4 linked regions of the Homo sapiens genome follow. The protein of the gene in region 1 interacts with the protein of each later gene in a pairwise test. Each region holds a gene or a part of one and is shown on either strand. Other genes may lie near its edges.

Evidence for each region.
Region 2: the proteins of UBTD1 (region 1) and TRIM39 interact in binary tests that used the Homo sapiens proteins (3 or more experiments, as listed by UniProt).
Region 3: the proteins of UBTD1 (region 1) and MRFAP1L1 interact in binary tests that used the Homo sapiens proteins (3 or more experiments, as listed by UniProt).
Region 4: the proteins of UBTD1 (region 1) and TRIM50 interact in binary tests that used the Homo sapiens proteins (3 or more experiments, as listed by UniProt).

Annotation. Positions count from the first base shown.
Region 1 is NC_000010.11:97,564,906-97,571,716, forward strand, and holds the end of UBTD1 (ubiquitin domain-containing protein 1), read left to right. Parts: intron 1-3,008; coding exon 3,009-3,236; intron 3,237-5,232; coding exon 5,233-5,618; 3' UTR 5,619-6,301; downstream 6,302-6,811. UniProt on the Homo sapiens protein: May be involved in the regulation of cellular senescence through a positive feedback loop with TP53. Is a TP53 downstream target gene that increases the stability of TP53 protein by promoting the ubiquitination and degradation of MDM2.
Region 2 is NC_000006.12:30,336,927-30,343,954, forward strand, and holds the end of TRIM39 (E3 ubiquitin-protein ligase TRIM39), read left to right. Parts: intron 1-2,981; coding exon 2,982-3,004; intron 3,005-3,345; coding exon of another isoform or gene 3,346-3,435; intron 3,436-3,578; coding exon 3,579-3,694; intron 3,695-4,785; coding exon 4,786-5,333; 3' UTR 5,334-6,803; downstream 6,804-7,028. Other genes in the region: TRIM39-RPP21 protein, read left to right, coding at 2,982-3,004, 3,579-3,694, 4,786-4,970.
Region 3 is NC_000004.12:6,707,173-6,714,511, forward strand, and holds MRFAP1L1 (MORF4 family-associated protein 1-like 1), read right to left. Parts: upstream 2,694-7,339; 5' UTR 2,458-2,693; coding exon 2,074-2,457; 3' UTR 2,059-2,073; intron 1,472-2,058; 3' UTR 529-1,471; downstream 1-528.
Region 4 is NC_000007.14:73,312,008-73,318,082, reverse strand, and holds the end of TRIM50 (E3 ubiquitin-protein ligase TRIM50), read left to right. Parts: intron 1-1,393; coding exon 1,394-1,518; intron 1,519-4,413; coding exon of another isoform or gene 4,414-4,454; exon of another isoform or gene 4,455-4,572; coding exon 4,573-5,162; 3' UTR 5,163-5,547; downstream 5,548-6,075. UniProt on the Homo sapiens protein: E3 ubiquitin-protein ligase that ubiquitinates Beclin-1/BECN1 in a 'Lys-63'-dependent manner enhancing its binding to ULK1. In turn, promotes starvation-induced autophagy activation.

The sequences.
Region 1 (6,811 bases):
CGAGGACTTAAGATAATAACTCTTTCAACCAATTGCCAACCAGAACATCTTTAAATCCACCTATGACCTTTAAGTCCCCGCCCCTTCAAGTTGTCGCTCCTTTCCACACAAACCAATGTATATCTCACATGTAATGATTGATGTCTTAAATCTCCCTAAAACATATAAAACCAAGCTGTAATCCAACTACCTTGGGCACATGTTCTCAGAACCTCTTGAGACTGCATCACAAGTCATGGCCCTCACATTTGGCTCAGAATAAATCTCTTCAAATATTTTACGGGGTTTGGCTTTTTTTGTCCAACAGTCTGTCCCTGTTCCAGTACTGTGCCAACTGTAGCTTTATAATTAATGCTGATCATGGCAGCACAACTTCTCCCACCTGATTCTTTTCTAGGAACATCTTTGTTCTTCTATATAAAATTTAGAATCAGTTTGCCAGGTTCCTTGGGAAAAAACTGACAGGAATTATATTGGAATTGTATTACATTTATAGATCAGTTTAGGGGGAGTGGACATCTCCATGATTTCTTTGAATGTTGCTTCCTTCCCATTTTCCCTATTGTATACTTCTGGAAATTCAGTTCAAAATTTTAGACCTAGCAGGGCATAGTGTCACCTATATAGTCCCAGCTGCTTGGGAGGCTGCTGGGGGAGAATACCTTGAGCCCAGGAGTTTGAGGCTGCAGTGAGCTATGATCACACCACCGCACTCCAGACTGGGCGACAGAGTGACCTTGTCTCTCAAACAGAAAAAAGACATCCGAATCTCAATTATATTGTATTTTTCTTTATTTTTATTTTCTTTTTATTTTTTTGAGACAGGGTCTCACTTTGTCACCCAGGCTGGATTTGGAGTGCAGTGGCATGATCATGGCTCACTGCAGCCTCAACCTTTCTGGGCTCAGGTGATCCTCCCACCTCAGCCTCCTAAATAACTGGGACTACAGCTGCATGCCACCATGCCCGACTAATTTTTTGTATTTTTTGTAGAGACAGGTTTTTGCCATATTGCCCAGGCTGATCTCGAATTCCTGGGCTCAAGTGATCCATCTGCCTTGACCTCCCAAAGTGCTGGGACTACAGGTGTGAGCCACTAGGCCTGGCCTGTATTTTTAATTTTTAGAAGTTCTATATGGTTCTTTTAAGATCTTCTTGGTTATACCTACTATGTACCCACAAAAATTAAACATTTTTAAAAAATCTCCTTGGTCATTCTTTATAATCTCTTATTCATATTTTTAAGGCCCTCATCCCTTAACTCAGTATTTCATAATCTATCCAAAGTCTTTGCAAATCTGATTCTTTTGTCTGCTGTTTTTGCCAGTAAAGCTCGTACTGCCTTGTTTCCTTGCATATTGAGATTTTTTTTTTTTTTTTTAAAACTATTACCTTATTTATTTTTCTTGGAACTTTATCTTGGGAATTCTTTGAGGCCTGGTTTGAAGTTGTTTTCCTCCAAAGAGGGTTTGCCTTTCCTTCTGCCACCTCACCACCCCAGGAACACTTTAAATTAAATATTTGGCTTTAGAGTTTTCTGCCCCTACAGGTAACTGTGAATTCAGATGGTGAACTACAGGATTTAGTCAGACCTGAGGTGGAACCCTCACTCACTTACTATGTGACCTGGGGCAAGTCATTTAATCTCTCTAAATCTGTCATATCACCTGTGAAATAGCAATAATAATACCTACTGCCTAAGGCTACTGCAAGAATGAAATGGGATCATGTATATAAATAAAGGCTTGCCTGGGGTTCTTTCTCAGCGGAGATCGCTGCCTGCAATTCTCTTCCTTGCTTCCTTTTGCCCCAGCCAGTGGGAGCAGCCTGGTGGTGGCCCCCAGCCTCAGTTCTTCCACTCACTGTAGGACCTGAGTTATAGTGGAAGCAGAGTGCTTCACATCTCACTCCTGTGGCTCACTCTGCCTTTAGTTTTGAGATGACTGAGCCTCCAAAAGCCTTTGAGAGATACCTCTGCCCTCAGTCTTGGCTGTGGTTTGGAGTTGTCTTGGAGGTCACTTGGAGCTGGGTAACAAGAAAAATGACATTTGACAGAATTGTTTTCTTTGTCAGATGCTGCAGGAATTTTTGGGGGAGTTTGTTGGTCATGATTGCTTAAAAAATCCTTTTTTTAAGTGGGACATTAGTAACAAGATGTTAAAATTGTTAATAATTTTTTTTTTGAGACATGGTTTCGCTGTGTTGCCCAGGATGGAGTGCAGTGGCATGACCACAGCTCACTGCAGCCTCAACCTCCCAGGCTCAAGTGATTCTCCCATCTCAGCCTCCCAAGTAGCTGGAACTAGAGGAGCGTGCCATCATGCCTGGCTAATTTTTAAAATTTTTTTGTAGAAACAGGGTTTTACCATGTTGCCCTGGGTGGTCTAGAACTGCCGGGCTCAAGCAATCCTACTGCCTCCCAAAGTGCTGGGATTACAGGCGTGAGCCACCGCGCCCTGCCCCACATCATGTGGGAAGGGTGCGGTGGCTCACGCCTGTAATCCCAGTACTTCGGGAGGCTGAGGCGGGTGGATCACGAGGTCAGGAGTTTGAGACCAGCCTGACTAACATGGTGAAACCCCATCTCTACTAAAAATACAAAAATTAATCAGGCGTGGTGGTGGGCGCCTGTAATCCCAGCTACTCGGGAGGCTGAGGCAGGAGAGTCGCTTGAACCCGGGAGGCGGAGGTTGCAGTGAGCCGAGGTCATGCCATTGCACTCCAGCCTGGGCAACAAGAGTGAAACTCCATCTCAAAAACAAAAAACAAAAAACAAAAACAATGGTAGCGTATGCTTTGCTGACACAATTATTTTATGTCCCTAGGTTGGTTATGTGAAGTTTTCTGACTCTTCCCTGCTATTTAGGAAGGGCTTCAAAGACCTGAATACTTAGTAGCCAGTGCAGCAGGGTTTCAGGGTCTGGCCTGGGGAGGGGAGGGGAGGGGGAGGGCAGGTTGCAGCTCAAGTGGCTTTAGAGATGCTGAGCCTCTCCTTCTGTCCTGCCCAGGACGCAATGAGCCCCTGAAGAAAGAGCGGCTTAAGTGGAAGAGCGACTACCCCATGACTGACGGGCAGCTGCGGAGCAAACGGGATGAGTTCTGGGACACAGCGCCTGCCTTCGAGGGCCGCAAGGAGATCTGGGATGCCCTCAAGGCTGCCGCCTATGCTGCTGAAGCCAACGACCACGAGCTGGCCCAGGCCATCCTGGATGGAGCCAGCATCACCCTGCCTCATGGTAAGTGGGCAGGGCCAGGGCTTTATCCCCGCTGGAGCTAGGGGGTCACCAGCACAGTTTGAGGGTGTTGAGGAGTGTGGAGCGGTGGGGCAGGTGGTTACTCACGTATTCATTCATTCAAGCACCCCTTACTGAGCATGGACCAGGAGTGGGTACACAAAGAAAAAGAGACACAGTCTATGCTTGCCTAATGACATGACAGAAAGACAACAAACCTGCAAAGCAGTGTCACAAATGCACTTTGGGACCCCAGAACATCCAAGGCACTGACCTTTTTATTTTATTTTTTTTTTTGAGATGGAGTCTTACTTGCTCTGTTGGCTAGGCTGAGGCTCAGTGGTGGGATCTCGGTTCACTGCATCCTTCACCTCCTGAGTTCAAGCAATTCTCCTGCCTCAGCCTCCTGAGTAGCTGGGATTACAGGCATGTGCCACCATGCCTGGCTAATTTTCGTATTTTTAGTAGAGACGGGGTTTCACCATGTTGGCCAGGCTGGTCTCAAACTCCTAAGCTCCAGTGATCCACTGGCCTCAGCCTCCCAAAGGCACTGACCTTTTATTGGGTTGTTATGTGCTGGACACCGAACTAGAAACTTCCACTGCATTAGCTCACGTAAGTTCATAGCAGTCTTATGGGGCCATGTAAAGCAGAGGGTGACAGTGGAGCCCTAGAATCACAGACTTGAGTTTCTTTTTTTTTGAGACGGAGTTTCCCTCTTGTTGCCCAGGCTGGAATGCAGTGGAGCGATCTCGGCTCACCGCAACCTGCGCCGCCTGGGTTCAAGTGATTCTCCTGTCTCAGCCTCCTGAGTAGCTGGGATTACAGGCATGCGCCATCACGCCCAGCTAATTTTGTATTTTTAGTAGAGACAGGGTTTCTCCATGTTGGTCAGGCTGGTCTCAAACTTCCAACTGCAGGTGATCCGCCCGCCTTGGCCTCCCGAAGTGCTGGGATTACAGGCGTGAGCCACTGCGCCTGGCCACAGACCTGGGTTTCAGTCTGAATGTTTCCCTTTCCTAACTGTCTTGGCTTTAGCAAGGAGCTTCTCGAATTTAGAGCCTGACTGCCTTACGACTGTAAAGGGGAGATGATTATTAGGATTCAGTAAGATACACATAACATCATTTAGTCCAGTCCCAGCACTTAGTAGGTGCTCAAGAGACAATAAACATATTTCTCCATGCATTACGTTTTGCCAGTAAGGACACTAAGGCCCATGGAGAGCAGAGCTGTGCTATTTCATTCATCCCTGTAACCCCAGCACCTGGCACATGTGAAGAAGTGAAAAATAATATGCCAGGATGAACAAGCCAGTACCTGGTGGAGCTGGGATGCCAGCTCAGGTCTTCCTGACTCCAGCCCTGTACACCTGGTCATCAGGCTGTCCTAGGGAGATCTGACTGTGGGGTGGCCATGGCAGGTGTATTAGTCTGCTCAGGCTCCTGTAACAAAATACCACATGCTGGGTGACTTAATCAAGAGACATTTATTTTCCACAGTTCTGGAGGCTGGGAAATCCGGCATCATGGTGCTGGCTGGTTCAGGTTTTGGTGAGGACTCTGTTGCTGGCTTGCAGGTGTCCGTCTTCTTGCTGTGTCCTCACATGGGGAGCGAGTGGAGAGTGAGATAGTGCTCTAGTGTCTCTACAAGAACTGTAAGCCAGGGCAGTGGAGCACACCTGTAGTCTCAGCTGCTCGGGAGGCTGAGGTGGGAGGATTGCATGAGCCCAGGAGTTCGAGACTAGCCTAGGCAACATAGGGAGATCTTGTCTCAAAAGAAAAAAAAAAAAAGGACCATTTTTCCCATCAAGGGGTCAGAAGGTCAGGGCCCCACGCTATGACCTCATTTAACTTTATTTATTTCTGTATAGGCCCCATGTCCAAATACAGTCACATTGGGGGTTAGAGTTTCACCATATGAATTTGGGGGGACCCAAACATTTAATCCATGATAGTGGATCCCCAAGCTGACTCTGACAGCCCTGCCTCTCCTACAGGCACCCTCTGTGAATGCTACGATGAGCTGGGCAATCGCTACCAGCTGCCCATCTACTGCCTGTCACCGCCGGTGAACCTGCTGCTGGAGCACACGGAGGAGGAGAGCCTGGAGCCCCCCGAGCCTCCACCCAGCGTGCGCCGTGAGTTCCCGCTGAAGGTGCGCCTGTCCACGGGCAAGGACGTGAGGCTCAGCGCCAGCCTGCCCGACACAGTGGGGCAGCTCAAGAGGCAGCTGCACGCCCAGGAGGGCATCGAGCCATCGTGGCAGCGGTGGTTCTTCTCCGGGAAGCTGCTCACAGACCGCACACGGCTCCAGGAGACCAAGATCCAGAAAGATTTTGTCATCCAGGTCATCATCAACCAGCCCCCACCACCCCAGGACTGATGGGCCCACGGACCCCTGGGAAGAGGCCCCGCCTGGAGCACTAGGCCCCCACCCTGCTGCTGCCTTCCAGTGCTGTCATTTTCTTCAGGGGCCCTCCCCTCGGTGTGGCTGGTGGGTGAGCCGTGAAGGGACCCTGCCTTTCAGGGCACTACGCGCCACCAGTTCCCGGTACCCAGGGAGCAGGCAGCCACACACGGGCCTTGCAACCTTGTCAGAGAAAAGGCGAACAGGGCCCTCACCCTGCCTGTCTCCCGAAGCAGGTTCGAGCCACAAGGGCCAACCAGGAGGCCCCTGGAGCCCAGATCTGTCATCTGGTGCTGCCAGCTGTGCTCACTCTGGTTTTCTGCTCAGGGTCTGAAGCAGCTGCTGTCTCCCTCCTCTGCCCCCATCCCCTGGCTCTCCCCTGGGCACAGTGCCACTCCCTTGGAAGGGAGGGAACCACCCGTGAGCCCCAGGGCTTGGGAAGCCTGAGGCGGGCCTCTGCCTCTCCCTGCCCCCAGCACAATTGGCAGAGATGAGGCGGGTGGTGGACAGCTGGGCTGTCGTGGCAGGGTCTGCACAGGGCCATGTCCTGGCTGTAACCCAGGCAGTGGGAGGTCTGCAGCCTGGTCATGGCCTCCACAGCAGGTCCCTGTGGACAGACATATCTGCATATTTATCAATAAAGCCTTTTGCTCCTTCTCGCTTGCCTGGCATTTGACTGAATTCTCCTGCAGCTCTGTGGGGCCCCTGGAGCTGTTCTGGTATGGGAACAGGTGGATGCCTGGCCTCCCCAGCTGCTCTGGGCATGCAATCTCCAGCAGAGTGAGCCTGGAACTGCCAGTCTTCTGGGCCCTGATCCCAGCTCCCCTGGTGTCCTCATGAGTCCTCAGGAAAAGCCACTCTTTGCTTTTCTTTAAAGCAGAGCCATGCTGCCTGCCCTGCCTCCTCCATCAGTTGCTGGGAGGATTAAGCAGGAAGACAGATGTGAAAGTGCTTGCAAGGCGAAGACAGCACCTCAGGAAGGTGGTCTGCTCCTGCAGCAAGAGGGGCTAACTTCCGGCCCTGGAGACGCTGTAGCCATCGTGATGTTAAAGCAAAATCTCTGACAGATTTAGATCGTGTGTCAGAGGTTTGTGTCAGCTTCCCAGCAAGGGAACCAGAAAGGAAAAGGAACCGGTTCCTCATGCTTCCTAGGGGAATGCATGCATATC
Region 2 (7,028 bases), on another chromosome or scaffold:
AAAGTCCAAATTACTTCTTGATCCATGGGCTGCCGATTGGATGTTGTGTTAGCGGACGTGAAAACAACATGAATCTCATTTTACATCTCTATCAGAACTTTTGGGTGATCAAGTGCATTGTCAGTGAGCAGTAATATTTTGAAAGGAATCTTTTTTTCTGAGCAGTAGGTCTCAACTTAAAATTTTCAGTAAAGGGTTGGGCACGGTGGCTTACACCTGTAATCCTATCACTTTGGGAGGCCAAGGCAGGTGGATCACCTGAGGTCAGGAGTTTGAGACCAGCCTGGCCAACATGGTGAAGCCCAATCTCTACTAAAAATACAAAAAAATTAGCTGGGCATGGTGGTGGGCGCCTGTAATCCCAGCTACTCGGGAGGCTGAGGGAGGAGAATCGCTTGAACCCGAGAGGCAGAGGTTGCAGTGAGCCAAGATCATGCAGTTGCACTCCTGCCTGGGTGACAAGAGTGAAACTCCATCCCCCCAAAAAAAACTTCAGTAAAGGCTAGGCACGTTGGCTCACATCTGTAATCCCAGCACTCTGAGAGATCAAGCCAGGAGGACTGCTTAAGGCCAGGAATTCAAGACCAGTCTGGGCAATATAGCAGGACCCCATCTCTACAAAAGGTAATTTTTTTTAATTAAAAACATTCAGTATACCATGCTGTATACAGGTGTACTGTCATGTAGGCTTTGTTATTCCATTTCTAGAGCACAAGGAAAGTAGATTTAGCATAATTCTTAAGAGCCCTAGGATTTTTGAAATGGTAAGTGAGCACTGGTTTCAACTTAAAGTCACCAGCTGCCCTTGCTTCTAATAAGAAAGTCATCCTGTCCTTTGAAGCTTTAAAGCCAGGCATTGACTTCTCTCGAACTGTGAAAGCCCTGGATAGCACCTTCTTCAATAGAAGGCTGTTTGTTGACATTGAAAATGTGTTGTTTAGTGTAGCCACCTTCATCAGTAATCTTGGCAAGATCTTCTGGATAACTTGCTGCAACTTCTGCATCAGCACTTGCTGCTTCTCCTTGCACATTTTTGTTACAGAGATGGCTTCTTTTCTTAAAACAACCTACCTAACTTTAAACTTTTCTTCTGCAGCTTCCTTACCTCTCTCAGCTTTCATAGAACTGAAGGAGTTAACAGCCTTGCTCTGGATTGGGCTTTGGCTTAAGGGAATCATGTGATCTTATATCCAGATCACTAAAATTTTCTCCATCTCAGCAATAAAGCTGTTTCACTTTCTTATCATTCATGTGTTCACTGGAGTAGCACTTTTAATTTTCTTCAATAACTTTTCCTTAGCATTCACAGCCTGGCTTGGTGTTTGGCACAAGAGGCCTAGCTTTCAGCCCATCTTGGCTTTCAATGTGCCTTTCTCACTAAGCTTAAACATTTTTAGGTTTTGATTTAAAGTGAGAGACATGTGATTCTTCTTTCACATGAACACTTAGAGGCCATTGCAGGATTATTAATTGATATAATTTTAATATCGTTGTGTCTCGGAATAGGGAGGCCAGAGGAGATGGAGAAAGATGAGGGAATAGCTGGTAGTGGATCAGTTAGAACACATAAAATATATTTATCGATTAAGTTGTTCGTCTTATATGGATGCAGTTCACAGTGCCCCCATAACGATTACAATAGTAACATCAAAGATCACTGATCACAGATCATACTAGATATAATAATGAAAAAGTGTGAAATATTGTGAGAATTACCAAAATGTGACACAGAGACATGAAGTGAACACATGCTGTTGGAAAACATGGTGCCAGTAGACTTGCTCAACACAGGTTGCCACAAACCATCTATCTGAAAAACATACAATGTCAACAAAACACAATAAAGCGAGGTGCAATAAAATGAGGTATGCCTGAAATTGTTTAAATAATATATTGCTTTTGATATGTATATATTAATAATACCTCTAAAGTGTTTGAAATATTTTGTTCTCTTACGTAAATGAATGGTGTTAGCAAAACTAGGGAACATATTTTTTATCTTAGAGATTAGATTACCAGCATTTGAAGCAGTGAGGCTTCATTGTACATTTATTTTTATGTTACGTATTGCTTGGTATTTGTTCCTATGGCCTTTCATGTATGTGTGTTCTGCCTTCCATATTAAACTGGGAAATCCTTGTGGGACAGAGATTTGTCTTCTTTGTCTTCTGGACCCCAAGTATTCACAAATCAGTATTAGCACACAGTTATTAATGTGTTTATTCTTCCTTTTTTTTTTTTCTGAGAGAGTCTTGCTCTGTCGCCCAGGCTGGAGTGCAGTGCATGATCTCGGCTCACTGCAACCTTTGCCTCCTGTGTTCAAGCGATTCTCCTGCCTCAGCCTCCTGAGTAGCTGGGGTTACAGGCGCACACCACCACACCTGGCTAATTTTTGTATTTTTAGTAAAGACAGGGTTTCACCATGTTGGCTAGGCTGGTCTTGAACTCCTGACCTCAAGTGATCCACCCGTCTTGGCCTCCCAAAGCGCTCAGATTACAGGCGTGAGCTACTGTGCCCAGCCAGTTATTGATGTTTATTAACTAATGCAAGACAGGGGATACCAAACCGTAACAGGAATGTGTGATTTGTTCCTATGCCACCAGTCTGGAACTCTCTGTACTTATCCTCAAGGAGAGTGAGATATGTGGTTGGTACTTGGGGGACAGAGTAAAGAATTGATACAATCCCTGTCCCTTATAGGGAGCTCCCAGCATCCTTGAGGAGCAAAGACAAGCATAAAAGAAATCATTGGGAAGTGATATAAATGACCAAGCTTCATGATGACCAGAAGTTGAAAGTAGGGATTAGGTTGGGAGAAGTGCATTCAGGTCCCGCTGGAGCTCTTCTTGCACTGTGTGACCCTCAGTTTATCCTATCCCTATTTTATAGCTGTGGAACTTTGGGGAGGAGGGGGAACCTTTTGCCTTCAGGACCACTGAATACCAGGACCAATATTGCTTTCTTTTCTCCTTCCTTCTAGGATGTCAAAAGTACCCTGGAAAAGTAAGTGATTGTTGTATCTCTCTGAGTGAGTTAGGTCTTGGCTTAGAGAGGAGGGGTACAGTCAGGAGTTTGGGTTGGGGGTGAGGTTGGGAAAGTCATGTAGTGTGTCTGGGCAGGGTATGGGAGAATGTTCATTGTGCCCATGAAGCCAGTTAGAGAACAAATTATTGGGAATAATAATCCCTTTTCCCCTTTGAACATCAGGACTTCTTGAGAAGGAGAATGATAAGGTAGAATCAGATTCTACTTGTGCCAGTGGGTGGAATTGTGTCCAAACAAGATGGCAGGAGGAAGGGGTTGGGAGAGCAGGGAGGGCAATCATCCATTTGCATGAAATACAGGAATATTCCTAGAAAGTTCGGAGGCTCACTCTCAACGATCTGTCCACGGGATCATAAGGCTCTCCTTGGATTAGTAAAAGAAATCAACAGGTGAGCTTTTCAGGGAGGAGGAAGAAAGTGGGAAGATGGAGAATTTTAATTTCTCCCTAAAAATGTTAACATCTGAATAGTCACTTGGCTGGAGCTTCTCCCTAACCCTGCCCTTTCTTCCCCTATCTCCCTATCCCTCCTAGATGTGAAAAGGTGAAGACCATGGAGGTGACTTCAGTATCCATAGAGCTGGAAAAGAACTTCAGCAATTTTCCCCGACAGTACTTTGCCCTAAGGAAAATCCTTAAACAGCTAATTGGTGAGTTGTTCCCAAAAGGAAACTAGAAGAAACCACTAGAGAGAAGAAAGTTTTTAGGTCCTACCTTATATGGGTTTCAGTTATCCTATGTCTCACTTTTCTTACTCCCACACACACCTACCCCTTTATCTGGCTTTTAGTCTCACCCTGAGTCACAGAACTTGGAGTGAGAGGAAGCCTTAAGCGTTATCTACTCTTAGGTCCATTCTTTTCTAAATAGAGACCCAGAAAGGTTAAATAATTTGCCAAAGTCATCGGGTAGAGTGGTTATATAATTTACCATGTAAACTTGCATAACCTTCAAAGGCCGGGTGCGGTGGCTCACATCTGTAATCCTAGCACTTTGGGAGGCCAAGGCTGGTGGATCACTTGAGGTCAGGAGTTCGACATCAGCCTGGCCAACACGGTGAAACCCCATCTCTACTAAAAATATAAAAATTAGCCAGATGTGGTGTTGGGCGCCTGTAATCCCAGCTCCTCTGGAGGCTGAGGCAGGAGAACTGCTTGAACCTGGGAAGCGGAGGTTGCAGTGAGCTGAGATCACACCACTGCACTCCAGCCTGAGGGACAGAGTGAGATTCCATCTCAAAAAAAAAAAAAAAGAAAGAAACTGAAAGGGAGTGTCATTATATTAATGTGAATATGCAGGGAAAATAGTCATAAACCAGGCCAGTTCCTGGAAAACACACATGGTCACCCTATCCCTAGACCATATGCTGTCTTGCTCGGCATCCTTCTTAACACTTTCCGTTTTTTTCTGCCCCTCAGACTACACCTTGTACTTCTCTACATAGTGAGATAAATGATAATGTCAGAGGGAGATGAAGAGAGGACCAGGCGGGAACCTAGATTACCAGCCACTGCAGACTCAAGAGATTATTATCTGTTTACTTTAGGGTCAGGGTGAGAAGTGAGCCATTGCTTTCTCCCCTTCCTTAGGTGACACCATGGATTGAGAAAGTTAACCAAACCAGGTTGTTCTGGGGACCTTTAAGGGACCAGGCTCTGTAAAGGCAGGCTGGAAGAGTGAGGCAGGGGCATTTAGCTATTCCCATCCTCATCTAGCTCCCCACTCTGGCTTCTCCCGCCAGCGGATGTGACCCTGGACCCTGAGACAGCTCATCCTAACCTAGTCCTGTCAGAGGATCGTAAGAGCGTCAAGTTCGTGGAGACAAGACTCCGGGATCTCCCTGACACACCAAGGCGTTTCACCTTCTACCCTTGCGTCCTGGCTACTGAGGGTTTCACCTCAGGTCGACACTACTGGGAGGTGGAGGTGGGCGACAAGACCCACTGGGCAGTGGGTGTATGCCGGGACTCCGTGAGCCGAAAGGGCGAGTTGACTCCACTCCCTGAGACTGGCTACTGGCGGGTGCGGCTATGGAATGGGGACAAATATGCAGCCACCACCACACCTTTTACCCCTTTGCACATCAAGGTGAAACCCAAGCGGGTAGGCATATTCCTAGACTATGAGGCCGGCACACTGTCTTTCTACAATGTCACAGACCGCTCTCATATCTACACCTTCACTGATACTTTTACTGAGAAACTTTGGCCCCTCTTCTACCCAGGCATCCGGGCTGGACGGAAGAATGCTGCACCACTTACCATCAGGCCCCCAACAGATTGGGAGTGACAGGTTGGGATGTGGGAATGACTGGGGTGAGGCAGGGTCAAGTGCTACGGGCCTCCTTCCCGTGTCCTGCTGGAACGTCTTCGTGTCCACCTGGGTCCAGTCCTGAATCATCTTGGAGAAACACCTTGGTTTCTAGGATGGTTTTGTGTGGAGGGGGAGGTAGGACTGGGCTGGATGAGAGAGCACAGCTGTGACTTCCTCCTAACTGTCAGGGTGGGGAGCTGGTTCCCAGAGGATTGTCTACCCTGAAGTCCATCAGGTTTTCTGTTGCACAAGGACGGGTCAGGAAGGAAGGAGAGGCTTTTCCAGAAACAAAAAATCTGTGAGGGTCTGACTTGCTCAAACCAGAGGAGGAAACAGAAACCCCTGCACATCTTTTTAGGGGGTTCTTTGACCCAGGATAGTCTTGCTTCTTGAGGTAGATCACAGGGGTCTGTGTACCTCTGAATTCATGAGAGATGAATGACAGATGCTCTCATGGGTCTAGATATTGAGGAGTTTTTCTGAGGGCAGAGATTGGACATCAACAAGGCTAGAAGGGTCAGGGAAGTGGGCTAAAGGAACAGATTCCTAGAGATTAATGAAGAGGAGGGAGGTTTCTTTGGTCTTCTATTCCAAGGGTAAGGTTGCGATTATGGGTAAGATTGGCCAGAGGTAGGAATGTGGGGAGAAGGAGAGGCTGAAAAGAAAGCAGAGGAGAACCCAGGTCCCTGCCTCAGCCTTCAGCAGAGTTGGCTTATTGCCTGCCTCTATACCAATAAGTCAGTCACCTTGCTCCTCTCCAGAGGCAAAGTGGAAGAGATCCTGCAAGACACATCTATCCTTTCACAGTGTTCCCAAGGGAACTTGGAAAGGAGAGTCAGGTATTAGAGGAAAGAGAAGGGTATTTGTATACAAAGCCCTGGCCTTAAAGAATGTTACTTAGTAGCTACTCCCAAATTGTCAGCCTTCTTACCTGGCCAAGGTGTCCAAGCCAGAAAGGAAAAAAGGTTATGGAGTCTTTCTCACCCTAAGGACAGGGTGGAAGAGGGTGGTATATAGGGAAGGGCCAGATAGGCAACTTCATTTGGCTTGTGTGCATCTGGCCTGGAACTGGTGTTAAGCCAGGCTTTTGCTTGTTTGTTGCCATCCCTCACCCTTTGCCATTTCCCTTTTCAGAGAATGTAAATGATTTTCATGTTAGGCCAAAATAAACAACTTATAGGGTACATATGTTGTCATAAAAGGTAAAAGTGATGCATGCCAAACCAAACTAAACCAATTTGGATTATCTGCTATTCGGGTAATCTTCACAGAAATGACTGAGAGAAGAATCTGCAGTTTACTGAGGGCATTTCAGTTCCTCCTACCACCTCAACAGGACTTTGTCCAGACTCTCCTCCTCTTACCTTTGTGCCTTGACTGTGGTTCTTTGTGGCAAGATACTTTGGTTGGTTAAAATAATATGGAACAAAGGATCCACTGAAGTGATCTCTGTGTTGTGTGGTAATTTGGTGACAGCCTTGTACTGATGTGTAAGAATCACTGGGTGTTAGACATGCATGTTCCTGGGTCTCACCCTTAGTGGTTAGTCAAGGTCTGGGGTGGGCCGGACATCTACATTTTATTTATGAGACAGAGTCTCGTTCTGTCGCCCAGGCTGGAGTACAGTGGTGATCTCAGCTCACTGCAACCTCCGCCTCCCAGGTTCAAGCA
Region 3 (7,339 bases), on another chromosome or scaffold:
CACTCCTTAACATCCAGCTCAATGGCCATCTCCCCAGTGCTGGAACTGGAAAGGCTTTTGCTCACTTTGATCCCTGTCCCTTATATGCCTTCATTCATTTCTACTTTTCAGGTCCAGGTAAGTCACCTGCTCTGAATTCACACTTCCCTACGAAGAGTTGACTCCCTCCTCAGGGATCCCACAAGATATCCACGCACTCTATGTCACAATTCCTTGTTTCCATTTCTGTCCCACATATTCGCCCCATCCATGTCTTCACCTTTACGTTCCTAGTGCCTTGGATAGGATATGAAGCAAGTTACATTCCCACTGGTTAACTAAACACACTTCCGCTGCTGAAAAGCAGGGGCTTGGCCCAGAGGATGGCCGAAAGTTTTTCTCTTCAGAACTGAGTGTTCTGTCAGCTCATCTCCATAGCACCTTCCAGAAATAATTCTCCCTCAGTTAAAGGCTTACCAAGAGCCTTTAACTACAAGCAGTTCAACCCCATTTGATGACACTCAATGAAGAACATCCATTCCAAAAAAATTTGTTTATGATTCTTTTATTAACACACACAGGAGGGGCTTTGGTCATGTGAACAAAAAATTTATTTCTTAAAAAAGGCTTTTTAGGTCTTTGTTTTTCAAGGCAAATTAACACTTATTATACTTTTGACTTTGACCTCCAATCTGACAGGTCTACTACCCTGATGAACTGGAAGAGACTTTCCAGGCCCTGATAATGTCTTTTCCTTTCTCCGGCCTCTTAAAGCTCTCTGTAGACTGTCTCTTCCATGCCATTCTCTGATGCCCCTATAATGTGTGAGGGTATTACAATAGTCCCTATTCAAACTGCCTTGTCATAAAAGGTCAGCTATGTTGTCTAAATCAACTCACCTGACAGGTTACACAATATATATCAGACAATGTGCCACAAAACATAGCTCTCCTCTTTCGTCTCACAGAGGAACTAAAGTTCCAAAATATATACAAAACCATCTTCCATCTCCAACTGTCTTCTCTTTCTTCCCAGTTTTATGCAAAGCAGTCTCATTAATACATTCTTCACCAGGCTCAACCAAGTAGCGTAGTGTCTTCCATTGCACCTCTAAAGTTGGAAGATTCTGATCCCACGTCTTGACGTGTTCCAAAAAACAATCAGGTCACAAAGGTAACAGCAAAATACGAGGCCATGCCCAACATTTCAAAAACACAGCGAAGTAACAAGAATAAACGTGACCACAAAAACAACTTAATTAAGCCCCATTTCTCTTCTGAGAGTATTTCTTTGACAAAAGTTATATTTCCAAAACCAAACACATTTGATAATCTAAATCCATATCGAGGTCATCAATCACTGACCATAAGGGAGACTGTTACATCGGGGTAAAAAACATACAAAAACAAAACAGAGAAAATGACAAGCTGTTTCAGTTTCCTCAAGGTGTCAGTTCATCCTTACCAGTTGACTACAGTCCTCAGCTGTGAACCTAAAGCACAATTGGGAGAAATTTACCATGAAGACATTGACTCTCAAAGTTCCATATCCTGATGTTAAAAATAAATGTGAACCACCCAGAAGAATGCCACTTCTTTGAGACACGGTCCTCTGACATACCTGTCTCATAGAACAATCTGGAAATTTCAGGTAATGGCCTCTGGCTTTACTCTTTATTTCTCCTTCCCTGCGTTCTCAGCCTGCGTTCCACTGTGCTCTATGGCCTAGGTCTTCTTTGGCTTTCCCCAAACTCCCTTAGTGCCTAGACAGGTCTACTTCTGGCGACTGCCCTATTAGAATTGACTTTTATGTTTCACAAAAACAAAACCGAAGTTACTGTTATCTTTCTCTAATTAACAGCGTGGGAGGGAGAGGCCACAAAAAAACGGTATACTAACGCCTAACAAAACCAGCACGCATTCTTTCCTCTTGACCCCAACTTTGTTCCCAATGCTCAATTTTTGATGCAATAAAATGGGGGATGCAGGCCTAGAACATAACTTTTTACAGGGCGCGGTTTAACCATGCTTAGGGCGACTACTGAGTTTCATCCAAGCTCCAGCTAGTTTCCGACCTTACCACCGATCTCCTCCTTCAAGAAGACTCGCTTCTCTCTATTCGCCAGACGAGCTCGACCAGCATCTCTGCCATCTTCGCAATCTCCTTGGCTTTCTCCTCAGCCTTCTCGCACAACTCCGACACTCTCTCGTCGGCTTCGCCACTCGGGTGCTGCACGTGATTGAGGGCGCTCTCCTCCGAGGCCTCCACCTGCGTTTTGATCTGGATAAGCATATTGTCCATCTCCCACAGCTTGCTCCTGGTCCGCAGGTACGCCCGCCCGTGCTCGCGTATAAGAGACGCGATGTCCTCGCGCATCTCGTTGATGACCGGGAGCAGGAACTGCTCGAAATCCTCCTCGGGCTCCAGCACCTCCACTTCCTCAGGCGCTTCCACCTCGTCTATGTCCAGGGGCCGCATCTCCTCCTGCCGCTTCCTCAGTACCGCAGTAGGGGCGTTCTTCTCACCGGAACCCTCCAAGAACTGGAGATCAGCAGTTACTGCTGGAGGCTGAGCGACCCACACGCTTTGTCAATTGTACTCCCGAATTATCTTTATTTTTTTTTCTTCCTTTTAATTGTAAGCCTTTCGCTTCACAACTCTGCGGGAAGAATCGCCGTGGATGCACACAAATAAGCGGCCTACAAAATGGAGTCGCAGCCGTCAACTCGCCCTCGGCCTTTTTGCGGCCCTTTCACGACAGAGCCGGGCCCCTTTACGGTCACGCCTTCGGCAAGACCAGGTAGCGGGCGCGTGCACGTAAAGGGGCCTCGGGCGCGCGCACGTCCATCACCAGCTGCTTCCCGGCGCCCCTCCTCGCCCTCTAATTTAGATCGGTGGCGGCAGGTTTGTTCGCGTCTTCATCTAAAGCTTCCCTTCAGCGGGCTTTTACTTTTATTATTTTTTAAAAGTAAAAGTGACCCTCCCTTCCCTATATTTGAATAAGACTGGCTGGCGTTCACAGCGCTTACTATCTAAGCATGCACAAGCTTGAATTAACTTATATGAATTCATTTAGCCCTCACAACGAACCTAGAGGTAAAAACCGTGCTAAAAGTCGTGATTTGAGCCCAGAGCAATGTGGGTCCACAGTCCCTGCTCACTGTTTTAGAATGGAACACGTCCTTCTGTCCTCCCCACCCCTGGCTCATACTTTTGTCCTGGGGGGAAATTCTCTCGCTGCCTTGGGTGATTCTGGCCGGTGGTTTTTGGTCTCTCTTCGCCAGTCTGTAAGGTCCTCAAGGTAAAGGGCTACTTCTGTTTCAGTTCTGTCCTCCGCCCCTCCTGTCAGCCTGGCGTCAAGCAGGGTCTTAGGGGATGCTTTAGAGAGAGGAATTCTTCTCTAGTACATAAGTGCTTCTACCAGACTGGAGGCTGTTTGGGGACAGGTTCTGGTCTTGATCACCTTTATGTCCCTCCACACACAGGACCTGAAAATCAGCAGGGACCTAGTAAATGTGGCTTTGATGGTCAGTACATTTTGATCACTAACCTAATGCCATTGTGGAATGGAGGAAGTCTGTTGCTAGGCTTAGCCACCCAGTGCCACACTAGTAGTAATATGAGTGTGTGTAGAGGGGGCATCCTTCTTAACACAAGTGCCACAGATCAGAGCTTCAGTTTTCCAGTCTGATAAAGACCAATGGCCCCAGCCTGAATATCTGTCAGTGGGAAGAGGGATTTGTAAGATGACATGCGTGAAACAGTTTTGCAAACACCAACATTCTAGCAGATGTTCATCAAAAAAACATGAAGAGGGAAAGAGCAAGACACCGTGAAAAAAGATATTTTCAATAGTTATACTGACAAAGGACTCATATGCAGAATATATTGAGAACTCCTACAGATCAAGAAGGAAAAGACAAAATTTTTAAATGGGCAAAAGACGTAGGCTGGTACTTAACAAAAGAGAATATTCAAATGGCTAATAAGTATATGAAAAGGTGTTCAACGTCATGATTCAACAGGGAAATGCAGATGAAAACCACAATGAGGAAGCACTGTACATCCACTAGAATGACTAAAATTTCAAATACAATACCAAGTGTTGGGGAAGATGTGGAACAACTGGAACTCTTATACATTCTTGATGGATGTCTTAGTCTACTCTGGACACCATAACAAAATACTATAGACTGGTTGGCTTAAAAACAGACATTTATCTTCTCACAGTTCTGGAGGCCAGAAGTCCACGATTAAGGTGTCAGCAAATTTGGTTTCTGGAGGTGAGGGCTCTCTTCCTCAATTGCAGATGACCACCTTCCTGCTGCAGTCCTCACATGATCTCTTCTTTGTGCATGCAGTGTTGGGGGGTACAGGAAAGAGTGCTCTCTTGTGTCTCTTCTTATAAGAACATGAAGCTATAGGATCATGCCCCCACTTTTATGACCTTATTTAACCTTACTTACTGCTTTACTCCAAGTACAGCCACACTGGGGGTTAGGGCTTCAACATAAAAAAATATTGGGGGACACATATATTCAGCACATAATAATGGGAATGTAAGTTGTTACAATAATTTTGGAAAACTATTTGGCAGTATCAACCAAGATTAAACATATACCAATCCTATGTTCTAGCAAACTGACACCTTGTTATACACTCAAGAGAGTTTGAGTGCAATTGTTTATAAAAATACATATACGAGAATATTCACAGCAACTTTATTATAATAGCCCCAAAGTTAACCCAAATGTTCATCAGCAGGAGAATAAATAAATAAAATGAATAAATAGTAGCATATTCCTTCAGTGGTTTATTATTGCATAACCAGTTAACCCAAAATTTGGCAGCTTTAAAACATTTATTATCTGTCATAGTGCATTTAGGCTGCTCTAACAAAATGCCATAAGGTGGGCAGCTTACAAAAGAAATTTATTTCTCACAGTTCTGGGGGATGGGAAGTCCAAGATCAAAGTGCTAGTAGATTCTGTCTGGTGAGGGCTAGTATTTTGGTTCATAAACCGTTCCTTCTTGCTGTGTCCTCACAGGATGGAAGGAGCAAGGGGTCTCTCTTATGCATCCTTTTTTTTTTTTCTTTTGGAGATTGAGTTTCACTCTTGTCGCCCAGGCTGGAGTGCAGTGACACAATCTCTGCTCACTGAAACCTCTGCCTCCCGGGTTCAAGCGATTCTCCTGCCTCAGCCTCCTGAGTAGCTGGGATTACAGGTGCCTGTCATCACGCCTGGCTAATTTTTGTATTATTAGTAGAGATGGGGTTTCACTATGTTGGCCAAGCTGGTCTTGAACTCCTGACCTCAGGTGATCTACCCGCCACAGCCTCCCAAAGTGCTGGGATTACAGGCATGAGCCACCGTGCCCGGCCCTCTTATACATCTTTTGTGTATTTACTTGTAGACAAAGTCTTGCTCTTTTGCACAGGCTAAAGTGCAGTGGAATGAGCATAGCTCACTGTTTCAAACTCCTGAGCTCAAGTGATCCTCCAGCCTCCACCTCCTGAGTAGCTGGGGCTACAGGCACATGGCACCACACCCAGCTTTAAAAAAAATTTTTTTTAGAGACGGGGGTCTTGCTATGTTGCCCAGGCTGGTCTCAAACTCTTAGCCTCAAACAATTCTCCTGCCTCTTCCTCCCAAAGTGTTGGGATTACAGGCATGAGCCACTGCAGCTGGCCTTATATCCTTTATAAGGGTACTAGTCACATTCATGAGGGCTCTGACCCCATGACCAGATCACTTCCCAAAGGCCCCATCTCCTGATATCATCACTGTGTTAGGCTGTTCTCACATTGCTATAAAGGAATATCTGAGACCGGGTAATTTGTGAAGAAAAAAGGCTTAATTGGCTAAGGGTTCTGCAGGCTCTACAGGAAGCAGGGTGCTGGCATCTGCTTGGTTTGTGGGGAGGCCTCAGGAAACTTACAATCATGGCGGAAAGCAAAAGGAGAGCAGGCATGTCACATGACCAAAGCAGGAGCAAGAGGTGACAGGAGGTGCCACACACTTTAAATGACTAGATCTCACGAGAACTCACTCATCACAGGAACAGCACAAACGGGATGGCGCTAAACCATTCATGAGAAATCTGTCCCCATGACCCAGTCACCTCCCACCAGGCTCCAGCTCCAACACTGGAGATTACATTTCAACATGAGATTTGGGCAGGACATCCAAACCCTATCAATCACCTTCTGGGGTAGAATTTAAATATATGAATTTGGATGTGAGGACACAAATATTCAGACCATAGCATTATCTTATGTCATTTCAGTTTAGTATCTTACATGAGGTTGCAGTCAACCTATCAGCTGGGGCTGCAGTCATTTCTGAGTTTGAATGAGGATGGAGCATCCCCTTCCAGGATGACTTACTCATGTAGTTGTTGGAAAGAGGCTGTTTTTCCCTAGCTGTTGGTCTCAGTTCTTTGCTATATGGGCTTCTCCATGGAGCTGCTCACAACAAGGCAGCTGGTTTCCCCAGAGCAAGTGGTTTGTGAACCCCCAATATCTGAGACAGGTCTCAGTTCATTTAGAAAGTTTATTTTGCCGAGGTTGAGGATGTGTGCCCGTGACACAGCCTCAGGAGGTCCTGATGACATGTGTCCAAGGTGGTCAGAGCACAGCTTGGTTTTATACATTTTAGGGAGACATGAGACATCGATCAACATATCTAAGATGAACGATGGATTGGTCCGGAAAGGTGAGACAACTCAAAGCAAAGGCAGGACAACTTGAAGCGGGGAGGGGGCTTCCAGGTCTTGGGTAGATGAGAGAAAAATGGTTGCATTCTATTGAGTTTCTTTTTTTCTTTCTTTCTTTTAAAATTTTATTTATTTATTTATTTATTTATTTTGAGATGGAGTCTCACCCTGTCGCCCAGGCTGGAGAGCAGTGGCGTGATCTCGGCTCACTGCAACCTGCGCCTCCCAGGTCCAAGCAATTCTTCTGCCTCAGTCTCCCAAGTAGCTGGGATTACAGGTGTGTACGACCACAACCGGCTAATTTTTGTATTTTTAAAAGAGGGTTTCACCATGTTGGCCAGGCTGGTCTTGTACTCGTGATCTCAAATGATCCACCCACCTCAGCCTCCCAAAGTGCTGGGATTACAGGCGTAAGCCACCGCGCCCAGACATTTTGAGTCTCTGATTAGCCTCTCCAAAGGTGGCAATCAGATACGCATTTATCTCAGTGAGCGGAGAAGTGACTGTGAATAGAATGTGAGGCAGGTTTGCCCTAAGCAGTTTCCAACTTGACTTTTCTTTTAGCTTAGTAATTGTAGGACCCCAAGATTTATCTTCCTTTCGCAGGTTGGAAGGAAAGAGATGCCACACTACCTTTCATGAA
Region 4 (6,075 bases), on another chromosome or scaffold:
GGCCTGATGGCTGAGAAGGACCCAGGACCTGAGTTTGCCAGGCAAGCCGAGGAAACGGTCCTGTAAAAGGGGGAGTGGCATGTGGACTCTGGTTATGAGTTCAGGGTGGCTGGGTGTAAGGCAGGATATCACCAGGAGTCGGAGCTGGGAGAGGTGGGAAATGGCCAGAAGCAACATCCAGGAGCACCGGGCATCCCTTGCTTACCCTCCTCACCCTTGCGCAGCAGGCAGTATCAGCCCTGCCTGAAACTTGCTCTGCAGATTGTGGGAAGAGAGTGGATCCATGTTCTAGACCCAACAAACGAACACGTGCAGTTCCCAAGCCTTCCTCACTCCCTGTTTATGGGAGACTCCGTGTTTCTCACATTTCTTTTAGTCTTAGAGACAATTTGGTCAGAAGACATGGGTTTAAATGAAGGGACAGAGGCTGGGCATGGCGGCTTACACCTGTAATCCCAGCATTTTGGAAGGCTGAGGCAGAAGGATGCCTTCAGGTCAGGAGTTCGAGACCAGCCCAGCCAACATGGTGAAACCCCGTCTCTATGAAAAATACAAAAATTAGCTGGGTGTGGTGGCAGGCACCTGTAATCACAGCTGCTGGGGAGGCTGAGGCATGAGAATCACTTGAACCTGGGAGGTAGAGGTTTCACCGAGCTAAGATCACCCCACTGCACTCCAGCCTGGGCGACAGAGCAAGACTCCATCTCAAAAAAAAAAAAAAAAAAAAAAGTCTTGGCATGGTGGCTCATAGCTGTAATCCCAGCACTTTGGGAGGCCAAGGTGGGTGGATTGCTTGAGCTCAGGAGCTCAAGACCAGCCTGGGCAACATGGTGAAACTGTCTCTACCAAAAATAGAAAAAAATTAGCTGGGCATGGTGGCACATGCTTATAGTCCCAGCTGCTAGGTAGGCTGAGGTGGGAGGATCACTTGAGCCCAGGGGGTTGAGGCTGCACTGAGTCGAAATCATGCCACTGCACTCCAGCCTGGGTGACAGAGTGAAACTCTGACTCAAAAAAAAAAGACACATTACTTGGCCCCCATAATTGGTTTCTGATTGGCAGGTCTGGTGTGGGGTCTAAGAACCTGCATTTCTGACCATTTCCCAGGTGGACCATTGACTTTCTACTGGGAATGGGTTGGACCATTTTCCAACCAACACTGCTGGTCCCCAAACCTGCACTCTAGAAGCACCACTATAGAGCGTTTCCCCTTCTAGGAAGGAGATGGGTCCTCCCTGAAGGGGCTGTGCAGGGGAGGGGATGATGGGCATTGATGGGCATTGTGACTGCAGTCCTGCACTGTGGATCTGGCTGGGCAAACATAGATAGGATGGAGGGGTGGGGTGGGCCACGTGATACCTCACTCTCTTGTACTGTGAACTGTCACCTGCAGAGCAGAGATGCCGCAGGCCCGGCCCTTAGAAGGCGCATTCAGCCCCATCTCCTTCAAGCCAGGCCTCCACCAGGCTGACATCAAGCTGACCGTGTGGAAAAGGCTCTTCCGGAAAGTTTTGCCAGGTGAGGCCCTGACCCGTCCTCCTTCCTGAGGGCTGCCGCCCAGGGCAGGTGGCAGTTCATCGATTGTATCAGAGAGATAATAAGCTACAGAGAACTCAGATGGAGGTTTGTGGAGGGTCCTAGTGAGAGCATGGGACTGAGTTTCCGAACAGCTTGGGTTCCTGCTTACTCTTTCCTTTCCTAGCTGCTGGCTGGGCAAGTTGTGTCATTTCTGAGCCCAGGTTCCTCATCTGTAAAGTGGGGCTATTTGCACCCACCCGGCCAGGCTGCAGAGCTTGTATATAGACATACGTGTGTTGCAGCTTAGTGCTTCATAAATGGTATTAGGTTGGTGCAAAAGTAATTGCAGTTTTTGCCATTACTTTTAAAAGTAATGTACTTTTTGTCTGGGCACAGTGGCTCATGCCTGTAATCCCAGCATTTTGGGAGGCTGAGGAGGGCGGATCTTCTGAGGTCAGGAGTTCAAGTCCAGCTTGGCCAACATGGTGAAACCCCGTCTCTACTAATAATACAAGAATTAGCTGGGCGTGGTAGTGTGCGCCTGTAATCCCAGCTACTCAGGAGCCTGAAGCAGGAGAATCACTTGAACCAGGGAGGTGGAGGTTGCAGTGAGTTGATATCGTGCCATTGCACTCCAGCCTGGGCAACAAGAGCAAAACTCCGTCTCAAAAAAAAAAAAAAAAGTAATATCCTTTTAAAAATGTCCTTCCTACTCAAAGGACAAGTGGTCTTCAAAGTAATGGCAAAAACCGCAATTACTTTTGAACCAACCTATTCTTGTTCTCTGTCAAAAACAACTCAAACACATTTCATTCCTTTATTACTAGCATGCTGTCTTGTACATAAGGGAGACTGCTAACAGAGCGATTTCATCCACCAAAAGCAAAAATAGGGTTTATATAAAAGAAGGGGCTGGGCACGGCGGCTCACGCCTGCAATCCCAGCACCTTGGGAGGCCAAGGTGGGAGGACTGCTTGAGGCCAGGAGTTCAAAACCAGCCTGGGTAACATAGTGAGACGCCATCTCTACAAAAAATAATTAGTGGGGTGTGGTGTTATGTGCCTGTGGGCCCAGCTACTGAGGAGGCTGAGGCAGGAGGATTGCTTGAGCCCAGGAGTTGGGAGGCTGCAGTGAGCTATGATTGCACCACTGCACTCCAGCCTGGGTGACAGAGGAGACCTCATCAGTAAAAAAGAAAAGAATGAAAAAAAAAAAAAAGGAAAGATAAGAAGGAAAAAAATTGCAGTTTGTGAACTGTGAATCCTGTTTGTACATCTCACATTTCTTTTTTTTTTTTTGAAGGAAAATTTGTATTATTTTCATGTACAGAAAACTCAACAGTGTACGTTTTACCCAGTTTAGTGGTAGTTTCTTTAGTCTTTGCCTTTTTGAGCTTGGCAATGTGAGCCACAGACTTGGGACCCAGGACACTGCCTCCCCAGTGATGGCGGATCTCATCACATTTGTTGTTGTAATTGGTCCTGGTAGCTTCCACCAGCTTAGCCCAAGCTCCTTTGTCTTCCAAGTTAACCTGTGTGAAGGCGACAGTGGTGCAGGTCTTCCTGGGGACTAGACATCCCAGTCTTGCCTTCCCCTTGATGATGCAGTCAGGGACCCCACTTTACACACAGGCACAGGCAGGAAGACAGCCAGCTTGATGGGACCCATGTTGCGTGGAGTCACCACCAGCTGAGCCTTCCTTTTTTTTTTTTTTTTTTTGAGACAGAGTCTCTGTCACCCAGGCTGGAGTGCAGTGGTGTGATCTCAGCTCACTGCAACCTCTGGCTCCTGGGTACAAGTGATTCTTCTGCCTCAGCCTCCTGAGTAGTTGGGACTATAGGCGTGTGCCACCACGCCCGGCTAATTTTTGTATTTTAGTAGAGACGGGGTTTTTCATTATGTTGGCCAGGCTGCTTGCAAACTCCTGGCCTCAAGTGATCTGCCTGTCTCAGCCTCCCAAAGTGCTGAGATGACAGGCATGAGCCACTGTGCCTGGCCCAGCTGAGCGTTCTTGTTCTCCATCAAGGTGGTGACGGTGTTAATTCCTGCTCCAAGGACAGGTGGCCTCTTAGTGGGGACATCCCCTTTGCTGGCAGCTTTCTTCTCAGTCAGGGCCAACAGTCTCTGCTTCTTCTCTTGCTTTGCCCCTGGTCTGTACTTCTGGGCCAGCTTAAGCAGCTGAATAGCTGTTTGGCGGTCCAGGGCCTGGGTGAACTGGTTAATAGCAGGAGACAGTTTCTGCTACTTATAGAGGATGGCTGTCCGCCACTGCACCCTGACCGAGCAGGACCATTGCACAAAGTGGGCGAGGTCCGTTTTGGCCTGGAAGTCCTGTCCAGTGCCAAAAGTCTTAGGCCTTTTCTCAAACGGGATAAACCACTTTCTTGGCCTCCTGCTTCTTCACGCCAGCAGGGGCCGGAGCCACCTTCTTCCCCTTGGCCTTCTTTCCTTGCGGCAACTTGGGTGGCGGGAAGGGGTGGGAGGCGGGCAGGGGGGAGCACATCTCACATTTCTGGGGTAAACGGATCAGCTGGTAACTAGCAAAAAGCTCAGGTGGGCTAGTTCGTCCTTGAATAGGCTGACTAGGCTAGCAAATCCAACAGCTGCAGTTGTTATGGGTTCTCCAGAAATCCCTGAGGGCTGAGCTATAGGCTCACAGGACAGGTGTCTTCCGGGTCCTTCCCACAACACCTCTGTGTCAGGCAGGCAGGCCAGAACCCCGAGCCCAGTGTCCATTTCTTTCTCCAGCCACCTCAGCCCCCCACAGCCCACCAAGCTGCTCCCTTTTATATAAACACTGTTTTTGCCTTGGGTGGATGCAATCAGTCTGTGATTGATCTTCCTTATGTAAAACTTCATTCATTCATTCATTCATTCATTCATTCATTCATTCAGGGAGCAGCCCTGTACTGGCCCCTTCTAGACCCTGGGGCTAGAGAGATGAGGAAGACACAGCCCCTCTCCTTGGGGAGTTCAGGGCCTCCATCAGCTTCTGTGGGCCGGGTCTGCTGCCCTCCACGTGGCCTCACAGACCCTCTGTGATCTCCCTCCCAGCCCCGGAGCCTCTCAAGTTGGACCCTGCCACTGCCCACCCACTCCTGGAGCTCTCCAAGGGCAACACGGTGGTGCAGTGCGGGCTTCTGGCCCAGCGGCGAGCCAGCCAGCCTGAGCGCTTCGACTACAGCACCTGCGTCCTGGCCAGCCGCGGCTTCTCCTGCGGCCGCCACTACTGGGAGGTGGTGGTGGGCAGCAAGAGCGACTGGCGCCTGGGGGTCATCAAGGGCACAGCCAGCCGTAAGGGCAAGCTGAACAGGTCCCCCGAGCACGGCGTGTGGCTGATCGGCCTGAAGGAGGGCCGGGTGTACGAAGCCTTTGCCTGCCCCCGGGTACCCCTGCCCGTGGCCGGCCACCCCCACCGCATCGGGCTCTACCTGCACTATGAGCAGGGCGAACTCACCTTCTTCGATGCCGACCGCCCCGATGACCTGCGGCCGCTCTACACCTTCCAGGCCGACTTCCAGGGCAAGCTCTACCCCATCCTGGACACCTGCTGGCACGAGAGGGGCAGCAACTCGCTGCCCATGGTGCTGCCCCCGCCCAGCGGGCCTGGCCCCCTCAGCCCCGAGCAGCCCACCAAGCTGTAGGGCCGCCCGGAGTCCTGCCGGCCCACAGGCCCATCCCGGCGGGGCACCGGGGACTCGCGGGCTTCTGCTGGGTCCCGCCTGAGGTGATATCGTCACTGTTTAGGAAGGTCTTCAGGCCTGTGTGTCCCTGGAACATGTAATGATAGGGAACAGGACCCCAGTCCCTTTCCCCTCAGCCAAGGGTGTATTTGTAAACTTCGGCCCCCAGGCCTTGGCAGCCAGGGACACACTGAAATCCCCATGGTTCCTGCCACTTGCTAACCATGCTATCTGCGCAGACGCTTCCGAGGGCAGAAATAGTCCCATGTATACCTTTTCCATATTACTGTGAACTTTCAACTACTATCAAGGATAATAAATTTGACATTATTTCTTTCTCTTTAAATGATTTGCACATATTAGTTGCTATACATACTGCTTTATGCTCGAGTCTTTTTTTTTTTTTTTTTTTCCTGAGATGGAGTCTCTCTCTGTCACCTAGGCTGGAGTGCAGTGGCACGATGTAGGCTCACTGAAACCTACACCTCCCGGATTCAAGTGATTCTCCTGCCTCAGCCTCCCGAGTAGCTGGGATTATAGGCATGTGCCCCATACCCAGCTAATTTTTGTATTTTTAGTAGAGATGGGGTTTCGCTGTGTTGGCCAGGCTGGTCTTGAACTCCTGACCTCAAATTATTTACTTGTCTCAGCCTCCCAAAGTGCTGGGATTACAGGCGTGAGCCACCGTGCCCAGCCTCGAGTCTAGTTTCAGAGACAGGATCTTGCTCTGTCACCCAGGCTGGAGAGCAGTGGCACAATTGTAGCTTACTGCAGCCTTGACCTCTCAGGCTCAAGTGATCCTCCTGCCTCAGCCTCCTGAGTAGCTGAGACAACAAGTGTCTGCCACCATACCCAGCTAATATTTAAATTTTTA